3 separate regions of the Homo sapiens genome follow, and regions 1 and 2 are each reported to be linked to region 3. Evidence: microRNA targets listed by miRTarBase, many of them from high-throughput screens and not tested one by one. Region 3 holds a microRNA gene; each other region holds the end of a gene's coding sequence.
What was found. The annotated mature microRNA hsa-miR-7850-5p reads GUUUGGACAUAGUGUGGCUGG and lies in region 3 at 2,556-2,576, opposite strand. An mRNA with a match to its seed (bases 2 to 7 or 8) in the 3' UTR can be bound and repressed. Matches are read on the target gene's strand: a 7mer-m8 pairs with bases 2 to 8, a 7mer-A1 pairs with bases 2 to 7 and ends in A, and an 8mer does both.

Region 1: miRTarBase lists RBMXL1 as a target of hsa-miR-7850-5p. Seed matches in the 3' UTR shown: 7mer-A1 at 2,997-3,003.
Region 2: the mRNA of TRABD2A is a reported target of hsa-miR-7850-5p. The part of its 3' UTR that is shown has no 7-base or 8-base seed match.

What each region holds. Positions count from the first base shown.
Region 1 is chr1:88,978,196-88,983,420 of GRCh38, reverse strand. It overlaps RBMXL1 (RBMX like 1), which reads left to right. Exons shown (of 3, transcript NM_001162536.3): 3 at 1-3,965. The coding sequence ends at 767. The region is part of intron 2 of KYAT3 (kynurenine aminotransferase 3); the gene reads left to right. Among named protein-coding and RNA genes, the nearest start is that of KYAT3, 12 kb to the left of the region's middle.
Region 2 is chr2:84,817,467-84,822,683 of GRCh38, reverse strand. TRABD2A (TraB domain containing 2A) reads left to right here. Exons shown (of 7, transcript NM_001277053.2): 7 at 584-1,018. The coding sequence ends at 767. DNAH6 (dynein axonemal heavy chain 6) reads right to left here. Exons shown (of 77, transcript NM_001370.2): 77 at 3,095-3,379. The coding sequence ends at 3,276. Among named protein-coding and RNA genes, the nearest start is that of TRABD2A, 61 kb to the left of the region's middle. RefSeq lists a silencer at 5,084-5,217.
Region 3 is chr19:2,628,074-2,633,298 of GRCh38, reverse strand. MIR7850 (microRNA 7850) reads right to left here and starts at 2,584; the gene lies at 2,506-2,584. All of the region lies in intron 2 of GNG7 (G protein subunit gamma 7), which reads left to right. RefSeq lists an enhancer at 5,119-5,225.

The DNA.
Region 1 (5,225 bases), not on the chromosome of region 3:
TGAATTTTAACATGAGTTCTTCCAGGGGACCACTCCCAGTAAAAAGAGGACCACCACCAAGAAGTGGGGGTCCTTCTCCTAAGAGATCTGCACCTTCAGGACTAGTTCGCAGCAGCAGTGGAATGGGAGGAAGAGCTCCTCTATCACGTGGAAGAGATAGTTATGGAGGTCCACCTCGAAGGGAACCGCTCCCCTCTCGTAGAGATGTTTATTTGTCCCCAAGAGATGATGGGTATTCTACTAAAGACAGCTATTCAAGCAGAGATTACCCAAGTTCTCGTGATACAAGAGATTATGCACCACCACCACGAGATTATACTTACCGTGATTATGGTCATTCCAGTTCACGTGATGACTATCCATCAAGAGGCTATGGCGATAGAGATGGATATGGTCGTGATCGTGACTATTCAGATCATCCAAGTGGAGGTTCCTACAGAGATTCATATGAGAGTTATGGTAACTCACGTAGTGCTCCACTTACACGAGGGCCCCCGCCATCTTATGGTGGAAGCAGTCGCTATGATGATTATAGCAGCTCACGTGATGGATATGGTGGAAGTCGAGACAGTTACTCAAGCAGCCGAAGTGATCTCTACTCAAGTTGTGACAGGGTTGGCAGACAAGAAAGAGGGCTTCCCCCTTCTGTAGAAAGGGGGTACCCTTCTTCACGTGATTCCTACAGCAGTTCAAGCCGCGGAGCACCAAGAGGTGCTGGCCCTGGAGGAAGCCGATCTGATAGAGGGGGAGGCAGAAGCAGATACTAGAAACAAACAAAACTTTGGACCAAAATCCCAGTTCAAAGAAACAAAAAAAAGAGTGGAAACTATTCTATCATAACTACCCAAGGACTACTAAAAGGAAAAATTGTGTTACCTTTTTTAAATTCCCTGTTAAGTCCCTTCCGTAATTTTTATGTTCTTGTGAGGAAAAAAGTAAAACATGTTTAATTTTATTTGACTTTATGACATTGCTTTTCAACAAGCAAATGTTAAATGTGTTAAGCCTTGTAGTACTAGTGTTGTAACTTTCCAAGTAAAGGTGTCCCTAAAGACCACTTCCTATCTGGTTTTTCCCAGTAAATGAGGCAAGCAATTCTAAGATCTTCCACAAAACATCTAGCCAACTAAAATGGAGAGATGAATCATTCTGCCTATACAAACAAGCTAGCTATTAGAGGGTGGTTGGAGTATGCTACTCATAAGATTTCAGGGTGTTTTCTAACTGAAATCTCACTGTTCTCAGTATGCAAAACCTGAAATCAGATGCCTATGTAAGGAAAGTGCTATTCACCCAGTAAACCCAAAAAAAGCAAATGGATAATGCTGGCCATTTTGCCTTTCTGACATTTCCTTGGGAATCTGCAAGAACCTCCCCTTTCCCCTCCCACAATAAGACCATTTAAGTGTGTGCTAAACAACTACGGAATACTAAATAAAAAGTTTGGCCAAAACCAACCATGAAGCTGCAAAGGTGCTTGCTCTTACTCTTTCAAATTTTTGCAACTCTAATGTCTCACTTTTAAAGGAACAGCTTGATTGCAAAGGAGAAAATAGATAAGCAATGAATTTATCTCCAACTTCCTAAAGGCTTATGACTTCTAAAAAGTGAATCTATCAGCATTCCACATCAGATTTAAAGCATCAAATGCCTGTGAAACAGCAAAGATGGTTGAAGATTGTGCTCATTATGTTTGTGGAGTGCTGATTGATTCACAGTAGATAACGCTGGCAGTAAGAGAAATCAAATGCTAAGAGTTGTTGAAGCAGAAGGCGGCTGATTGTTGGTAAGTCAGTGCAGTTGCATAAGCAGTGCTGTCAGAATTGGTTTGGTGCAGGCAATAGATTTTGCCTTCAAGGGTTCCTGTGGATCTCAGGAAGGCATCAGTGTTGATTAACACTCATAACTAGGGAGTGAGTGGTAGTTACTTAAGTAATTGACCAAATGGAAAAGGGGAAGTAATTAAGGAAATTGGTAAGTGGAGGTAGTCAGGAGGTTCTCGTGGTCCTTTACACAGATTTTACAGCTTTGGGTTTCATTTTGTTTAGCTAAAGTCATGGGGACAACTCTTCAATTTAGAACTTAAGATGAATTATAAAAATGATGGATATAAGTGGTAGCTCTATCTGGTGAAGTGTCTTGTCAGTAAGTGAAACATTTTTTTGTGGTGGCTTATCCACAAACAGTTTAGTTGTAGAATAAAACTTATGAGTGACATCTGGAAAGTAACAACCATGCTAAGATGGCAAACACACTGGAAACAATTGGGCCACTTGGCTTTCTTTTGCTGTATTGTTTTATAAGCCTGCTTTACCTCCCCGTCTTGGAAACAAGTTTTAGTTTATTGCTTTGGAGACTAGAGCCAATAGTGTAATGTTCTCAAAGGAAACAGACTTGAGTTGTTGGATTAGAGGAACTAACTCAACTTCTAATTTTTTTTGTTGTAATTATGGCACTGTCATGTTTTAACATTTGCAACTAGGGATAGTAAGTACAACATTTTTAACTCTCATTTGGCAGACTACTACTAATCACAGACCACAAGGGTAATGACCAAATTTATGTGGTTGTTACACTTCCATAGTTGTCTTAGCCGAATCCTTCCATATTCTTATGATTACTTGGGTTAAAGCTTCTGTGAGGACCTTTTGGCTCTTAAGATATCCTAAATATTTAAAATATTTAGATATCCTAAATATAGGATATAGAGTTTGTACCAAATATGAATGAATATTGTTCAAAGCAAGGAGTATGTTAAAATGACCAGACACCTGTTTGATAAATAGTTTACTGAACTAGCAGACGTGTGGAAAAAGAATCAGATCTTGATTCTTCTGGGTTTATACTGGTTGTAAAACAGAATGATATTAGAAAATGTTTTCCTTGTTTAAGTGGTAGTTGAACATAGAACTTGGGTATTATAGATCACTTTTCACTTTTTGGAATGTTTTGTATTGAAACTTAATACAACTTTAACATGGCAAAAAAAAAAAAAATCCAAAATCTATGAGATAATTTTGTTAAAGTTGGCTTGCTTGGGCGGGTGCTTGGTCCAGAGGGAGAAAAGAAGGCATGATTTCAGAATACTCTGGCAGCTTTTTAAATTCAGCTTTATCAAGTTACAGTAAACTGTATCTGTTTAGAATTACAACTCAATGGTTATTTTGACAGATGTATATGCCATGAAGCCACTGTCACCATCAACATGCAGAACACTTCCATCGCCCCCAAAAGATTCCTCAAGTTCCTTTGCAGTCCATCCCTCACGCTGCTGATTTGTCTTTGTCACCATATATTAGTTTGCTTTGTGGTGGTGTTTAGTATTTTATATAAATGGGATTGTGTAGCATGTACTTTTTTGTTTATGGTTTCTTTCACACACAATGACTTTGAAATTCACCAGGTTGCAGTGTATCAGTAGCTTATTCCTTTTATTGCTGAGTAGTGTCCCATTATGTGAATATGCCATTATTTGTTTTTCTACTCACCTGTTGATGGACCTTGGGATTGTTTCCAGTTTGGGGCTACTGTGAATAAAACTGTTAGGAACATTTGTGTACAAGCCACTGTGTAGACATAGGTTTTCCTTTCTCTTGGGTAAATACCTACCAGTAAAATGGTTGGGTTGCATGGCAGATTTATGTTTAATAAAGTAACTGCCAAACTGTTTGTTTTCCAAAGGGGCTATACCCTTTTATATTCCCACCAGGGTTGTATAGAGTTCCAACTGCCAACACTCAGTTTTCAGCCATTCTGATGGGAATCTAGTGGTATCTCATTGTGGTTTTATTTTCATTTCCCCGGGTGACTAATGCTGGTAAGCATCTTTTAAGGTACTTTTTGGCCAGTTGTATATTTTCTGTGAAGTGGCTGTCAAATCTTTTGCCCACTTTTAATTGGATTGTTTGTCTTATTGAGTTGTAAAAGTTCTTTATATATACTGTATTAAAGTCCTTTGTAAGACACATGTTCGTAAATACTTTTCTTTCATTATATGGCTCAGAATCTGGCAACTTTTTAAGAGATACTTGAGCCCACTGAATGATATATAGATCTTATAGTTTTTTTAAGTCAAGCCTTAATAATAATTAACATTTTTTGAGTGTTCATCTCTCAGTCCCTCTATGGCCATGAAGGTGGGAGATGTGACTCTGTTTAGTCTCAAGTAAAGAAATGCAAACTGAGATAATGGGTACAAATGGAGATGAAGCAAAGCCCTGTGATGTTCAAGTTCCTGGTTTCTGTTACCATTCAGTCTGGCTGGACCTCTGCCTTTCCCATGGTAACATGACCTTTCTAATGAATTCTCCCTTTTCATCTAAACTGTTTCAGATTGAGTTTCTCTCACATAACTAAGAGATCTGATTACTATAGCTTCGGAGCTTCTAAGGCATCTTATGCACTTGTCTCTTCCCCACTGTTCAATCTGAAGCATGTACTCTGCCCTTTAGCAAAAATCACAACTCCACCAGGTGTGGTGGCTCATGCCTGCAATCCCAGCACTTTGAGAGGCCAAGGCAAGAGGATTGTGTGAAGCCAGGAGTTCGAGTCCAGCATGGGCAAAGCAAGACCCTCTCTACAAATGAATGTTTGAAAAAAAAAAAAATTAAGGCCGGGCATGGAGGCTCACACCAATAATCCCAGCACTTTGAGAGGCCAAGACAGGAGGATCACTTGAACCCAGGAGTTTGAGACCAGCCTGGGCAACATAGCAATATTCTATCTCTACCAAAAAAAAAAAAAATTAAGAACAAAATTAGCCAGGTGTGGTGCCACATACCTGTAGTCCCAGCTACTCAGGAGGCTGGGGTGGGAGGATGACTTCAACTTGGGCAGGTGAGGTTGCAGTGAGCCATGATTGCACCACTGCACTCCAGCCTGAGCAACAGAGCAAGACTCTGTCTCAAAAAAATTAAAGTTAACCAGGCATACTGGCACACATATGTCATCCCAGCTACTTGGGAGGCTGAGGTGGAGATCACCTTAGCCAGGAGGTTGAGGCTGCAGTGAGCCATGATGGTGGCACTGCCACAGCCTGGGTGACAGAGCGAGACCCTGTCTCAAAAAAAAAAGACACCACAACTCCACCCGGAGAAGAAATAAAATCTCAAAGAAGCATGAGCAGCCAACACAATTTTATAGCAGGAAAGAAAAAGCAAAAAAGCTAGGAAAGAACATAACAGTTTCTTTTTAAGATCTGTGTTTAAACAAAGACACTTAGGAAG
Region 2 (5,217 bases), not on the chromosome of region 3:
TAAATTGACCTGTTTAGTACTTTTTCAAACAAGGCCATTGGTGACTACGGGGTTGGGCACTTTATACCTCAGCTGAGTTGAAAGATCTGGGTAAGCCTGAGGTCATGGGCCCCTCAGCTTGAACTGTCTTGACCTGGTATGCCTATATGCTGTGCACATCAGGCCTGGACTTGGGCAGATGAGAGAGGCAGAGACCCAGGGAGGAATCTGCATGGTCTGGCTCTGCCTCTGTGGTGGCCAGTGAGGAGGGTCCCTGCCTAAGATTGCCCAGAGACTAATGTTAGCAAACTTTGAATTCGGCCTTATACGAAGACTTTCACTAATCTTTGAATAAAGAGCCAAATAGCCAGGGACAGTTAGCCAGTCTGCTGGTCTTAATATCCTCTGCCATTTGGTTTTCTGGTAGCAGTGGCCAAAGACATGAAAGAGGGCCAGAGATATAGGAAGCCTATTAATATACTAATACCCATTCCTGTCTATAAGGAGGGGAGATGAAGAGAAGCTGTGTGGGCATTTGGGGGCCTTGGCGTGTGCAGTGGTTTCTGCTGTGACTTCAGACTCTGTCTTTCTCTTTGCCTCCTAGTGACATAGTCCCGCAACTCCAGGTCCCTGTCCTGGACAGGCACATCTCCACTGAACTGCGGCTCCCTCGCCGTGGGCATTCCCACCACAGCCAGATGGTGGCCAGCAGTGCCTGCCTGTCTCTCTGGACTCCTGTGTTCTGGGTGCTGGTGCTGGCTTTCCAAACAGAGACACCCCTCCTGTAACGACTGGAAGCACCAGGCTAAGAACCTGACCCCTCGGACTTGAAGAATGGCCATTCCTGTACTCCACATTCTGGTCTAGCCTTGTTGGGCCCAATCCAGAAGAGACTGCTCTTGAAAAAGCGGCCCAGTGTTGATTCTTCTCTTTCCAAGGAATGTGACTTTGGGTTATCCAACTTTGGGGGCAGGTGTACAGTTTTGTAACATAGTGAGTTGTGTGAAAATAAATTATAAATGAGTTGTATGAAAATAAATACCTTTTTTTGTATAGATTTTTATTCATGATATATATATATATCAGGCAGACAACTTCTTCTCTCACACCCTCTGAATCCTTCCACTGCCTCCCCCTAGGCCCTGCACTTCTCAGCTGCAGCTCTGATCCCTTCAGGCCCTGGCTTTGTATCCTGACCCTTTCTTCTTTCCACTCTCTTTCTTTGTGTCACTCTTGGTTCTGGATGCAGGGGAGTCAGTGGGCCACGGAACTTGTGGTCTGCACCTCTCTATTCAAGCTCTGGTGAATAGGGTGCTCCCTGTGTCCTGAGAGATGCTTTTATTTTGTATAATGTGTGTGTCTCACTGACATGCTGGAGGCTGGGTGGGGGGGTTGGGGGGCGTGGGTAGGCTTTGTCAGAGGTGCTGTGCAAGAAAGTGGTTTTCAAACTACCCCCAATCCCCATTTTGTTATTTATTATTTACATGTTTATTGTCAATGTCTTTTCTAAATACAAATCTTATTGGGACTCTATAAAATGTGTAAGAGTAGAACTTCCCCAGTTGAATCTGAAATGGGAGCTTTTAACCCTGCCCAGGTGATCTCCCTCCCCTAACCACCATGGTTCCAGATCAGGGTCTCCCACCTGTGGCAAGTGTCCTTTATGGTCCTGGGCCTCTGAATAGCCCATAAAAACCCTGGGTAGAAGGTCTGTCCAGGACTTGGGTGGGGTCAATAAGAAGTAGTTGTATTTGTCCCCTAATCTGGCTTAGGGTAAGGCTGATTGCCTGGGTTTGTAGCTCTGGCTTCCCTTCCTTTTCTGAGGCTTTTGTGGGTTCATGTTCAGTTATTTCTAGGGCCCAGAAGATCTCAGTGGCCTTACTAAAACGGTGTGATGGCACTCAGGACCCATGTCCACCACTTTGGTTCCATTCTGCACCACCTGTATTGCAGGCGTAGGCGGGCAAAAACTCCCAAATCCCCTCGCTGCTATGTTCGATTCTCCTAATGAGATACACTCATGGGATATTTGGAAAACAAAAGTGGGCAGAGGGAATTTTTCTTGAGCAGGGGGCGTGGTTATGTGCAGGCTTCAGCAGACACAAGTTTGTGCAGTAGCCAGTCTCTGCAGCCCCCTCTATTCCCCTGCTTCAGCGTGAAGTAGCTGTGAGGTTGGCATAATTTTTCCTTCAGGGTTCCCACCTTGGAGTACAGATGCTGTGATGCCTGATATCAACTCTTTGACTTCTGCAGTGGCAGCCATTCCTGTGCCCATGTTAGTACCTATTTCTGCTTGAAACACCAAGAGTAGTTTCTGATTTGTGCACTGATTTCTGGTAAAAGTGGTGTTCCCTGCTTCTCTGCGACTTGAGTCTGCTCTTAACTTCGATAGGTATGGGGATGAAGTGGGGAGGCAGAGATAAACTGGGAGGGTAGGATCACTGTGGCTGACTCTGTTCCTCCAATTCTTTGTAAGAGGGTGGTATGGCTCCTACCAAGGGCTCAATCCTAGCTGGGTGATTTCCTTGTTTCTTGGGTCACATTATGGCCGAGGAAGCAGGCAGACCATTATTGGCAGGACTGACACAAGATGGTTTGTCACAGTGGCTGCTCCATTTGAGAACTGACCCACCAACCTCTGCTTTTGAGGTGGCAGAGGCTCAAATGCACCTGGCTGGGACTTGGTTAGTTTTCACACAGATTCATCCTAAAGTGGAAGGGGAAAATCCTCCGTACTTGGGCAGGATTGGCCTGCCCTTTTGTGAAAGCACAGGCTCTTCCAAGGATTGTGATGAAGCCCCACAGAACAGGGAACTGACATCATAGGCCAACTTCTTCTTATCCTGCTCATTTGCTCTACCAGTTGTGCTCACTGCATCAACCTCCCATGCACTGGACTCTGAGAGCCTTCATCTTGTCTAGAAATGGAAGCACCTGGGGCCTTTCATATCAGGGTGAAGAGGAAAGGAGCCTGTGAGGGGAAGCGAGTGCTGAGTCCTTACTCTTCCTGGGGGTCCCAGAAAGTAACTGATGGGAAGCTGCCTCTCACTTAGGGTGGGGGAGCAGGCTTAACAGGTGGGTTGTTGAACCCACTGCTTCTACAGCAGAGCTTGGATTGCCAACAGAAAGAACTCAAACACTTTATTTTAAGGTCATAAGAGAAATAAAAGTCACAATACGTTTAAGTCAAATCAGAATTAACACCGTTTTGCTCACATATAAATTATTCAAACCTTTTGCTCCCATTAGGAAAGATCTCTGGCCTGGTTCTTTTTCAGGGCTGAGGTGGCACCTTTTCATTCGCTCAGCTGGCAGAGCAAAGCTGATCCCTTGGCAATCCAGTAGTCTTTGGACCGCTTGGAGGGTAACAGGACGGTTACCACAAAATTGGTTGAATGTCCTAATTAAGGATATAGGAAAAAAAGGTTGTTACTTAAGAGAATAACTTCCTCATACAAAGAGAGAGGCTACAAAGAGTCAAGACATCTGGGTTCCAGGCCTGACTTGCCCCTAAAGATGCTGGACAAATAGTCCTTTATGGGTCTGTTTTATGCTCTATAAAATGAAGATTTTAGAACAAATAATTCTTTAGGACTTGTCCAGCTTAGACTTCATAGAATTTTTTTTTTCGAGACAGGGTCTCACTCTATCACCCAGGCTGGAAGTGTAGTGGCGTGATCTCAGCTTGCTGCAACCTCTGCCCTCCTGGGTTCAAGTGATTCTCCTACCTCAGCCTCTTGAGTAGCTGGGACTATAGGTGCGTACCACCATGCCTGGCTAATTTTTGTATTTTTAGTAGAGGCGGGGTTTCACCAGTTGGCTAGGCTGGTCTCAAACTCTTGGCCTCAAATGATCCGCTTGCCTTGGCCTCCCAAAGTGCTGGGATTACAGGCATGAGCCACTGCACCCAGCCTAATAATTTCTTAATAACCAGGATTCAAATGAGTTTCATATCTTGCAACAGTGATGTGTCTCTTAAATCTTTCAATTGGTAGGTTTCCCTCTGCTTCTTTTGCCGCCCCCTTGTAATATATTTGTTGAAACAACCAGACTGTTTGTCCTGTTAAGTTTCCCAGAATCTGGATTTTATGACAGCACTGCTGTGGTGATTTTAAATATATTCCTCTCTTCCTGTAAGGGGTGGTTAGATCTAGAGGCGTGACTACATTCAGGTTTGAGGTTTTTTTTCCCTTTTTTTTTTTTTTTTTTTTTTTTTTTTTGAGATAGGGTCTCATTCTTTTGCCCAGGCTGGAGTGCAGTGGTTTGATTATGGCTAACTGCAGACTTGAACTGGACTCAAGCGATCCTCCTGCCTCAGTCTCCCAAGCGGCTGGGACTACAGGCGTGTGCACCACACCTTGCTAATTTTTGTATTTTTTGTAGAGACGGGGTCTCGTCATCTTGCCCAGGCTGGCAGGTTTGAGTTTTATGGCAAGAATAATTCTTAGGTAGTAGGTACTTCTATCAGGAAGCACATTATGTCTGATTGTCTTTCTTTTTTGGGATATTAGTGGCCATTGATGACTACTACATAGGACTACCCCTCTTTTAAATAGCTGAAAAAGAGTTTCTTTTGATCCTTGTACAAGATGGGGTTTCTGTCACAGTTTCAGATAATGTTAGTTTGTTGGTCCCCTCTCCTTACTGATTTGTAAGAATTCTTTATGCCAGGCTTCTATAGTTTGGATGTTTGATCCCTCCAAATCTCATGTTGAAATTTGATCCCCAATGTTGGAGATGGGGCTTAATGGAAGGTGTTTGGCTGATGGGGGTCAGATCCCTGATGAGTAGATTAATACTCCTTGGAATGGGGGGTGAGCTGTCACTTTATTAGTTCTTGCGAGAGCTGCTTGTTAAAGAGTCTGGCGCCTCCCTCCCATCTTGCCTACTTCCTCTCTTGCCATGGGACCTCTAAACACCAGCTCCCTTTTGTCTTCTGCTATGAGTGGAAGCATCCTGAGGCTCTCACCAGAAGCAGATGCTGGCACCAGCCTGCAGAACCATGAGCCAAATAAACTTTTCTTTAAAGTTACTCAGCCTCAGGTATTCCTTTATAGCAACACAAACACAAACAAAGACAGTTGGATTTTTTTTTTTTAATTGAGATGGGGGTTTCACTATGTTGCCCAGGCTGGTGTTGAACTCTTGGGCTCAAGTGATCCTCCCACCTTAGCCTCCTGAGTAGCTGGGACTACAGACACATGATACCACACCTGGCTAGACAGCTGGATTGTTTTC
Region 3 (5,225 bases):
TGGAGGCCAGAGAGGATGGCTCTGCCAATCTGTGGCTTGACCTTGACCCTCTCTGACCCTCTACAGCAGGGGTCAGAGTCCATTGCCCAGGACAGCAATGATGAGGCCCGTTGGATGCTAATTTTCCTCCCATCCGCTTCATCGTTTTAGTGAACCAGCACCCACCTGCAGGGCCCCTGCCAGGCTAACACCCTCGGATCTCTGCGCAGACACTCCCGGTGCCGCCTGGGGATGCGTGTCATAGATGGTTAAGGTGCAGCCTGGGGAGGCCCAAGGTGGGGTCTGTTGAGAAGTTAGGGGCCTGGTAGAGGGGCCCCCTGTCCCACCAGCAGGGTTCAAGGGGCTGAGGGCTCCTGAGCAGACATGGGCCAGGCAGAGGCCCAGGCGGGTGCCCCAGTGCAGAGCCCACTGTGGCTGGATGAGCCTCGTAATGACTTCATGTTAGAGCCTCAGCTTTACTTATTTATTATTTTTATCGGACATGGATCTGAATTATTATTCTTATATTCTTGTTATTATTATTATTTTAGAGTCAGAGTCTCACTCTGTTGCCCAGGTGCGAGTGCAGTGGTGCGATCATAGCTCAGTGTAACTAAGGGGTGCTCCTGGCAGGGAGTGGGTGGAGGCCAGGGACTCTGCTCAGCACCCTGCAGTGCCAGGGCAGCCTCACCCCAGAGATGGATCCAGTCCCGATGTCCACAGTGCTGACGGTGAGAGACTTCCCTGTAGAGTAGAAAGTCTCTGTTCGTCAGCTGTTTTTACAATTCCCAGTCTGTTTTCTGTGTGCGTGTGTGTGTGTGTGTGTGTGTGTGTGTGTGTGTGTGAGTTTTGTTTATAGCAGGTTGGGTTTTTTTGTTTTTTTTTTTTTTGAGATGGAGTTTCACTCTTGTCTCCCAGGCTAGAATGCAATAGCATAATCTCGGCTCACTGCAACCTCCACCTCCCGGGTTCAAGCAATTCTCCTGCCTCAGCCTCCCAAGTAGCTGGGATTACAGGTGCCTGACACCACGCCTGGCTAATTTTTGTATTTTTAGTAGAGACGGGTTTCACCATGTTGGTCAGGCTGGTCTCGAACTCCTGACCTCAAGTGATCCACCTGCCTCTGCCTCCCAAAGTGCTGGGATTACAGGCATGATCCCACACAGCGCCAGGCCAGGAGTCTTACCTTTCTAGGAGGCAGAGTTTATCTGTTCTTTTGGGGCTCCTTTCTCTAGAGAATGGGGGAGAGGGCAGCACCAGGGTGATGATGTCCCCGCAGAACAGGCCGTCACGGGATTAGCCTAGTCGATGCTAGTTGTCCTTATTGGAGATCTTGGGGAGACGCCCTGAAAATGCTGTAGTCTGCCTTGGCTGGTTCAACGTCCTTTCACCCCTTTTCTCTCTTCCTCTTTCAGAAATGGCACTTCTAGGGTCAGTCGGCTTCATTTTAGAAGTTAGCAAAAGAAGGAAAAAACTGCTAAAGCCGGGGTCGAAAACTGTGGCCCCCAGGCCAAGTCCCCCATCTAGTTCCTGTTTTTATAAATAAAGTTTTATTGGCATACAGCCACAGACATGCTGTGCCCCCACCCCAGGCCCAGTCTGGCCCTCCACTTCCTGTTTTTATAAATGAAGTTTTATTGGCACACAGCCACAGACAAACTGCAGCTCCCTGGGCCAAGTTCCCCCCTCCACTCCCTGTTTGTATAAATAAAGTTTTATTGGCACACAGCCACAGACATACTGCAGGTCCCTGGGCCAAGTTCTCTGTTCCACTTCCTGTTTTTATGAATAAAGTTTTATTGGCACACGGCCACAGACATTCATTTACCTGTCATCAGTGACTGCTTTCATACTACAAGGACAGAGCTCAGTGGCCTTTTGCAGAAAAGGTTTGCTGACCCTCAGCCTAGAGGCCTTGAGTTATCTGATTTCATCTCATAACCACTCGTGAGGAAAGAATGATCGTCACTGGACAGATAAGGATGCTGAGACCTAGCGAGGTTAAGTGGCTTCATGAGGTGACATAACCAGCAGTTTAGGGCTTGGGCTCCCAACTCTGCCACCTACTGGCTCTGTGACCCTGGGCCATCTCTGTGCTTTTCTGAACCTCAATGCCCTCGTCTGTGAAAGGGGGGAGAATAGGCAGTGCCTGCCTCTCAAGGGGTTAATGCATGTCAAGCTGTCTAATACTAAATGCACCATTCTTCCTCTGGTCTTCATGCCTGCTATGCCTCCTCAGCCCCACACAGTGCTGTTGAGACAATCAGATAATGTCATAGTCATTAGACCTTTTTGATGATATACTCAGACATACTCAGGAGGAAACTGCTGAGTTGCTTGGCTGATTGTGGAGGGACATGATGTCCAAACCCTTGTGTATGAATAAGTTTGAAAGCTGACCATAAAATCCCAGAATGCTCTAGTCTGCAGCACATAAAGAGTGTATTAGCTAGCTATGGCTGCGTAACAACTACCATGAATGCAGTAGCTTAGAGTGACACCCATTTATTATCTCATGGTTCCATAGGTCAGAAGTTTGGATGTAGTGTGGCTGGGTAAGACCCTGCACAGAGGACCCAGCCACACTATGTCCAAACTTCTGACCTCGGAGATGTGAGCCAGGGCTGCATTCTCATCCGAAGGTTTGTGTGGTGACGGATCCCCTTCCAAGCTCATTCCAGGCTCATTCAGAATTCAGTTCTTTGTGGTTGATAGACTGTTTCTGTTGCGTTGTTAGCTGTCAGGAGGGGGCAACTCTCAGCTCTTTGAGGCCACTCTCAGGCCACTTGGCCTTCTCCATAGGCCCCTCATGCTTCCAGGCTCTCATTTCAGGAAAGGCCCAATCCCTTTTAAAGGGTCACCTGATTAGACCAGGCCCACCTAGGATAATCGCCCTTTCAGTGAACTCAAGGTCAACTGATTTAGGACCTTATTTACCTCTTCAAAATCCCTTCTTTCCTGAAAAGCAACCTAATCAGGGGAGTGATATCTCATCATGTCCACGGGCCCTGCCCACACTCAAGGGGAGGGGGTTCTACAAGATATGTTCTCCAGGGAGATCTTAGACTCCTCTTGGTGGCAAAGGGAAGGGGGGGCCTGCGTTCGGCCTCAGCCAGGACCGAATCAGCAGGACCTTCACTCCCTTTTTCTGGCGTCCATCCCTTCCTCTTGCAGGAGTACTGCCAGGTCTTTGGGGAGAGGGTGGGGGTTATTGGGAGAAAGGAGGCATTTGGAAAGTAGGTGGCAGGCTGTGTCCCAGTTACACCTAAATGTGTCTCCACTTATTAAAAAAAAAAAACAACCTTTATTTTGAAATCATTACAGATTCAGAGGAAGTTGCAAAAATCACACAGAGCAAAAAACATCACATGTATCTTCACAGTTTCCCCCAGTGGTGACATCTTACGTAACCATAGTACAAAACCAGGAAATGGACCCTGGCACCATGTATGTGCAAAGCTCTGTGCCCTTTCGCACACATGCAGACTCGGCTTCACCTTATTTATGGGTGTGCAGGAACATTAAGTGTCCATAAATGTGGACGGAGCTCCTCTTACTCGTGGGCATGGGGTCAGAGGGAGGCGGGAGTACAACCAAACAAAACCATCTAGACTTTGACCGTTGATGTGGGTGCCAGGTTCCAATCACCGTGTGCCCCCACACTGCGTTCAGGGCTACGCTCTTCTGTCTTCTCCCACTAGTCTGTGAGTCTGTGAGGTCTTGTCCACTACCTCTTTAGGCAGCCAGCCCTTCTGGTGGGCTTTGTCGTGGGGAGGGGGTGGCACTAGGTGTGTTCTGGGGCTCCTAGCACTAGAAGACTTGTTTCAAATCCAGAAGCACCTCCTATTCGTGTGGGCGCCCAGGCAACTTACCTGACCCGTCTGTGACTCTGTGTCCTTGGGGACCTCCTATTCTAAACACAAGAGCGTGGCCTGCTGTCACCGTCACCATCCTGGCATCTGCAGAAGAGCCACCAAGCGCTGCCTCCTGAGAATTTCTGGAAGGAGGAGATGACTGGTAGAGTGGAAAGTTATTGAAAGGGACATTTGGAGTTCTTTCCAAGGGACATAACCCATCTCCCAATATCCCCTATCCATTTGCTCAACCTTCAGAGAGACCTACTAAGATATCCAGTTGTTCACCTCAAGTCTTCAACTTTCCCCAAAGTTCTTTGCTGTTTTCTCTGTGCCTTGCACAGAGCCTGATGCATAGTACGTGCTCCTTGGGGGCCACTTTGTGTGTGTTTCCTACTAATGGCACCTACAGCAGCAATGGCCACCATGTCTTTTACAGCTACAGTCCTAGGCAGAATTCCAAGATGGCGCCCAAGACCCCCACCGCCTGGTGCCCACATCTTATCTAATCCCCTGCACTTGAGGATGGGCTGGACCTGCGAATACGATGGGGTGTCACTCCAGTGGTTAGGTTAATGCAGTTAGGTCGTGTGTTCGGTAAAGGGATTTTGCAGATGCGACGAAGATTCCTAGTCAGTTGACCTGAGCTCATCAAAAAGGAGACATCCTGGGTGGGCCTGACCTCATCAGGTGAGCCCATAAAAGAGACCAGAAGCACATCCCGAGGTGTCAAATTCAGAGAGACAGAAGGGAGAATGGTGGGTGCTAGGGGCTGGGGGAGGGAAGAGGGGAGCTGTTGTTCAGTGGATACAGTGTCTCAGTTTTACAAGATGGAAGGTTCTGGAGAGCCATTGCACAGCAGTGTGAGTATACTTAACATCACTGAACCGTACACATAAACGTGGTTAAGATGATCCGTCTTATGTTATATATATATATACACACACACACACACACCACAGTTGAAAGAAAGAGAGAAAGGGAAGGGGTTTCTTGCCTTAAAGAAAGCAAACAGCTATGTCGTGAGCTGCCTGTGGAGGGTCCATGTGGCAGACACCTGAGAGTAGCCTCTAGGGGCTCAGAGCACTCACATCCAACAGCCAGTAGGTAAACAGGGACCTCATTCCTAGAGCTGCAAGGAAATGAATTCTGCCGATAACCAAACTAGCTCAGAAGAGGACCCCAAATTCCAGATGACAACTCGGCCCAGCCCATACCTTGATTTTAGGCTTATAAGACTCTGAGCGGGGGACCCAGTTAAGCCAGACTCTTGACACACAGAAGTTGTGAGATGGCAAATGGTGTCTTTGTTGCCGCTGTTGTTACTCAGCAGTAGCTGACTCATACACTTGCCGTGTTGTTTGCCATGTTGAGATTGAGATAATGATCTCC